Linked DNA regions of Homo sapiens: region 2 is linked to region 1. The links come from fine-mapping of genetic effects on gene expression. A gene starts in region 1. The other region holds a variant in brackets. All regions are shown on one strand. Distances are from middle to middle.

Region 1 (2,923 bases):
AGAGATTTTGTCTGCTTACAAAAATATCTTTATACTTAAGCAGAATTCAAGTGAGAAACCAATCTGGCTGCAATTTAGTTATGCCTATAAAATGTCCTAGGAAAATGGAGCTTTAATTGGAATCTTACAAAGTAATGCATATGTAAGTATAAAACAGCAAGAAATTGTAACTAGAAGGCTCTCTATGCAGAGATTAACATGCTGAACAAATTTAGAGACTTATCACCAAATCACTGCACTTTCTCACAGCTGCACTCCTGATGCCTAAGAGCTTGTGCCCATGGTCAGTCTATCCAATGCCATTTCCCAAAACCAAATCACATTAACCCAGACTTTCCCGCAAAGGAACAGGGCAAAATCAGTTTAGCAATGTGTTTGGTACAGCTCTCTCAAGCACTACACTTACCTTTTTTTGGATTTTATACCGCTTATGGCAGGTCATGCGTTTACTTGCTTTCTTTAACTCTACAAAGAAACACATCACAAATCTGTTAACCCAAATGATTAGTTCTGGGTTAACGCACTATGGAGTTATATCCTTTTCTTGTGTTATTGGCTACCAAACCTAACGTTAAGTCTAATGCGAAATGCCTAATGCAAACATACGTGCTACTTTCAAATCCCAGAGAATTAAATTCAGTAGATCCAGAATGGAGTCAAAATTCCCTGCACTTACCCTCACAATATTAGAATGGGATCATACACAACAGCGTATGAGACACAAAACGACAACCACTTCGTGTCAAACAGCACGAATCATAAGGCAGGAGAGGAACACTGAGTCTGGGAGGCGATTCTCAGCTCTCACCTGGGCCAGTCTGCACGTGGCCACGGAAAGAAAATATTGGGCCTCAAACCTGGCTCAGACGCTGCTTCCTTACGAAAATCTAGCCTAGTCTTCCCCACCCTCTGCCCGGCTTCGTTCCGCAGAATGAGCCCGCGCGGTTAACATGATCGCCGTAGGGACTTCCAACTCTCGGTTCTACCAGGAAATAGGGCCAAGGCCTACGCGTAGGCTCCCACCCCCATACCAGCAGAGACAAAGCCGTAGCCGTAGAAGAGCGTCGTGGTGGCTGCAGCAACTTCCAGACGTGGGTCCCTCCACGCCCGCCTCCCGACCCCACTTACTAGGCCTTTTCATATTGGCTGTAGAAGGAAGCACAAACACATCAACCTGCCTCCGCTGGCGCCACGTGTGAACTGAAGCCACTGACGAGCGTCACGCACTTACGCTGCCGCCGTAAAGTGCGTCACCGCCTCTCTGCGTGCGCGGGCACGCAGTGTCGCGCGGAGCAGGGATCGCTTGGCGGCCGCGGGACTGGTTTTGCGGCGGCACCGGGAGGGGTAAGGGAGGTGAGGGCGGCGGGTGCCGAAGCGACGGCAGCGGCCGCGGCCGGAGGAGCAATAGCAGCAGCCGTGGCGGCCACGGGGCGGGGCGCGGCGGTCGGTGACCGCGGCCGGGGCTGCAGGCGGCGGAGCGGCTGGGTAAGGCCGGGCCCAGGGCGGGTGGGGCCGCTCCCCCTTGGTCAGCTGCCGGGCCTTTGTGTGGGCCCGGGCGGGCGGGAGCCGCGGCGGAAGCCCCGCCCCGGCCGTGGGGACGCGCGGGTCGGGCCGGGCGCGCGGGGTTGGGCGGGGCGCGGCGGCTGGCCTCCGGATGGGCCCAGTAGCCTTGTCGCACCTGCCGGCAGGGACAAAGGCGCACTACGGGTCGGAAACTCCCCGCGCTCCTCTTTCCCGCTCGTCGCGGGGCAGCTTCAAAGCTGTCAACGTTTCCCTCAGTCCCCAATACCAGTGACAGGTCGGGAAAGTCCTTCATTTCCTCCGTTGCTCAGGGCCTCTTTTTTTTGTTGTGGTTTCTTGACGGTTCGACACAAACTCTTAGTGATTTTCTTTCCGTATTTTTTCCGGGTATTTTAATCAATGGGACTTGTATTTATAGTAGAGGCCAGATATTTCAGCTTCTCAACACCACAAAGAATCCGGGATTTTGGGAACTGTGTATATTTCTTGGTTTGGGGAAGCACAGTTTTGTTATTATAATAAGTTTTAATTTAAAGGGGAAGAAAGAGTTGCAAAAATATAGAAAAAGCCCTGAAAAATAAGTACACGGTATAGTGGATATAGAAATTCTTACAATAATTATAGAAGCGTATGTTGGGGTGAATTGTTTTAATTAACTTACTTTCCAACACAGGATTCTTGACAAATAATTTTAGGTATTATTTTTTTCTCCATTTGGCTATGTGCTTTTCCCCAAAAAGTGCAAATTGGACTCATGCACATAAAAGAGTAGCATAATTTTTGCTTTATTACTTACAGGTCGCCCATATTTGATTTTGAGCTCCAAAATGGAAGATTGGAAAATATGTTTTGAAGAGGTGTTTCAAATTAAAACAATAAAGAGTTTATGTGTGGATGAATGGAAGGGCCTTGACCGCTTTCTTTGGCTTTGGGAATGTACAAAATACCTCAAATGTTAATATCCTACCAAAATTCCCAAGATAAGTAAATTGTGGTGTATCTATATGATAGATTACTATCAAGTCATCAAACATCATGAGGAAGAATGTTGACTTGGAAGAACCTTCACTAAAACACAGGCTGTAGAATAATATATGTGGTTTGTTAACATTTTGGTAAAAAATAATAGGTAACTAAGGCATAAATACCAAAAACCGAATGACAACGTTAAGAGTGGTTTTTTTCTTGGAAGTAGGTTTATAGGTGTTTTTTTTCCTTTGAGTCCTGTTTTCCAAGATTTTGTTTTAAACATGTATTGTATTGCTAAATATTACTAGAAATATAGGAGAGGGCTAAAGTTCATAAACGGTCGAAATACACTGTTTGTCTATAGTAAGTCGATATTCTCCCAGTTGCACATTATTAAGTATTCTTAACTGTCCACTATAAATTATTGATTGTT
Region 2 (2,923 bases), 140 kb after region 1:
TAAAACCAGTTTCATAATTGGTTGTATATGTAGACTTGGAGTTTTATCTTTTTACTTGTTGCCATGGAACTGAAACCATTAGAGGTTTTTGTCTTGGCTTGGGGTTTTTGTTTTCTTGGTTTTGGGTTTTTTTATATATATATATAAAAGAACAAAATGAAAAAAAACACACACACACAAGAGTTTACAGATTAGTTTAAATTGATAATGAAATGTGAAGTTTGTCCTAGTTTACATCTTAGAGAGGGGAGTATACTTGTGTTTGTTTCATGTGCCTGAATATCTTAAGCCACTTTCTGCAAAAGCTGTTTCTTACAGATGAAGTGCTTTCTTTGAAAGGTGGTTATTTAGGTTTTAGATGTTTAATAGACACAGCACATTTGCTCTATTAACTCAGAGGCTCACTACAGAAATATGTAATCAGTGCTGTGCATCTGTCTGCAGCTAATGTACCTCCTGGACACCAGGAGGGGAAAAAGCACTTTTTCAATTGTGCTGAGTTAGACATCTGTGAGTTAGACTATGGTGTCAGTGATTTTTGCAGAACACGTGCACAACCCTGAGGTATGTTTAATCTAGGCAGGTACGTTTAAGGATATTTTGATCTATTTATAATGAATTCACAATTTATGCCTATAAATTTCAGATGATTTAAAATTTTAAACCTGTTACATTGAAAAACATTGAAGTTCGTCTTGAAGAAAGCATTAAGGTATGCATGGAGGTGATTTATTTTTAAACATAACACCTAACCTAACATGGGTAAGAGAGTATGGAACTAGATATGAGCTGTATAAGAAGCATAATTGTGAACAAGTAGATTGATTGCCTTCATATACAAGTATGTTTTAGTATTCCTTATTTCCTTATTATCAGATGTATTTTTTCTTTTAAGTTTCAATGTTGTTATAATTCTCAACCAGAAATTTAATACTTTCTAAAATATTTTTTAAATTTAGCTTGTGCTTTTGAATTACAGGAGAAGGGAATCATAATTTAATAAAACGCTTACTAGAAAGACCATTACAGATCCCAAACACTTGGGTTTGGTGACCCTGTCTTTCTTATATGACCCTACAATAAACATTTGAAGGCAGCATAGGATGGCAGACAGTAGGAACATTGTTTCACTTGGCGGCATGTTTTTGAAACCTGCTTTATAGTAACTGGGTGATTGCCATTGTGGTAGAGCTTCCACTGCTGTTTATAATCTGAGAGAGTTAATCTCAGAGGATGCTTTTTTCCTTTTAATCTGCTATGAATCAGTACCCAGATGTTTAATTACTGTACTTATTAAATCATGAGGGCAAAAGAGTGTAGAATGGAAAAAAGTCTCTTGTATCTAGATACTTTAAATATGGGAGGCCCTTTAACTTAATTGCCTTTAGTCAACCACTGGATTTGAATTTGCATCAAGTATTTTAAATAATATTGAATTTAAAAAAATGTATTGCAGTAGTGTGTCAGTACCTTATTGTTAAAGTGAGTCAGATAAATCTTCAATTCCTGGCTATTTGGGCAATTGAATCATCATGGACTGTATAATGCAATCAGATTATTTTGTTTCTAGACATCCTTGAATTACACCAAAGAACATGAAATTTAGTTGTGGTTAAATTATTTATTTATTTCATGCATTCATTTTATTTCCCTTAAGGTCTGGATGAGAC[T/C]TCTTTGGGGAGCCTCTAAAAAAATTTTTCACTGGGGGCCACGTGGGTCATTAGAAGCCAGAGCTCTCCTCCAGGCTCCTTCCCAGTGCCTAGAGGTGCTATAGGAAACATAGATCCAGCCAGGGGCTTCCCTAAAGCAGTGCAGCACCGGCCCAGGGCATCACTAGACAGGCCCTAATTAAGTTTTTTTTAAAAAGCCTGTGTATTTATTTTAGAATCATGTTTTTCTGTATATTAACTTGGGGGATATCGTTAATATTTAGGATATAAGATTTGAGGTCAGCCATCTTCAAAAAAGAAAAAAAAATTGACTCAAGAAAGTACAAGTAAACTATACACCTTTTTTTCATAAGTTTTAGGAACTGTAGTAATGTGGCTTAGAAAGTATAATGGCCTAAATGTTTTCAAAATGTAAGTTCCTGTGGAGAAGAATTGTTTATATTGCAAACGGGGGGACTGAGGGGAACCTGTAGGTTTAAAACAGTATGTTTGTCAGCCAACTGATTTAAAAGGCCTTTAACTGTTTTGGTTGTTGTTTTTTTTTTAAGCCACTCTCCCCTTCCTATGAGGAAGAATTGAGAGGGGCACCTATTTCTGTAAAATCCCCAAATTGGTGTTGATGATTTTGAGCTTGAATGTTTTCATACCTGATTAAAACTTGGTTTATTCTAATTTCTGTATCATATCATCTGAGGTTTACGTGGTAACTAGTCTTATAACATGTATGTATCTTTTTTTTGTTGTTCATCTAAAGCTTTTTAATCCAAATAAATACAGAGTTTGCAAAGTGATTTGGATTAACCAGGTTTGGTTGTTCTGTTAAAGTGGTGTCAGATGTTTCAAGCAGATTTAACTCCTGCAAGCCCTGATTTCATGCTGACAAGGTTGTATGTGACTGCCAATTTAAGAGAACAAAGCTCCACAGATGGAGATGAAAGTCAGTGTCCAGACCTCTGGTTCAGGGCTCGGGCTGCATTAACACAGAGCCAAATGTAGTCAGACTGCAGACTGAAGTGCCCCACGCCACGCCTCAGGCTGGCAGTCAAGGAATTCCTACATGTCCTCAGCATGGGCAGAAATGCAGGTTGAAATTAAAATTGGAGAATTACTGAGGGCGGAAAGTGAGGAAAGCATGTAAGCAGTATAGCCCACTTCAAATAGCTTGTCTGTGGCCAGAAGAAACAGGTGGCCCAGGTGTCTTTAACATCTTTATAAACTCTTAAAACATGACCATGCTTTTAATAGAAAGTGTT

The links.
Region 2: its variant is fine-mapped to the expression of PBRM1 in fibroblasts (GTEx, PIP 0.99).

What each region holds. Positions count from the first base shown.
Region 1 is chr3:52,684,311-52,687,233 of GRCh38, reverse strand. PBRM1 (polybromo 1) reads left to right here and starts at 1,321. Exons shown (of 32, transcript NM_001405607.1): 1 at 1,321-1,485. GNL3 (G protein nucleolar 3) reads right to left here and starts at 1,202. Exons shown (of 15, transcript NM_014366.5): 1 at 1,129-1,202; 2 at 407-465. The coding sequence starts at 1,141. RefSeq lists enhancers at 975-1,044, 1,039-1,727 and silencers at 1,365-1,514, 1,585-1,734.
Region 2 is chr3:52,544,905-52,547,827 of GRCh38, reverse strand. PBRM1 (polybromo 1) reads left to right here. Exons shown (of 32, transcript NM_001405607.1): 32 at 1-2,461. Among named protein-coding and RNA genes, the nearest start is that of UQCC5, 9.8 kb to the right of the region's middle. The variant T/C (reference allele first, on the strand shown) is at 1,671.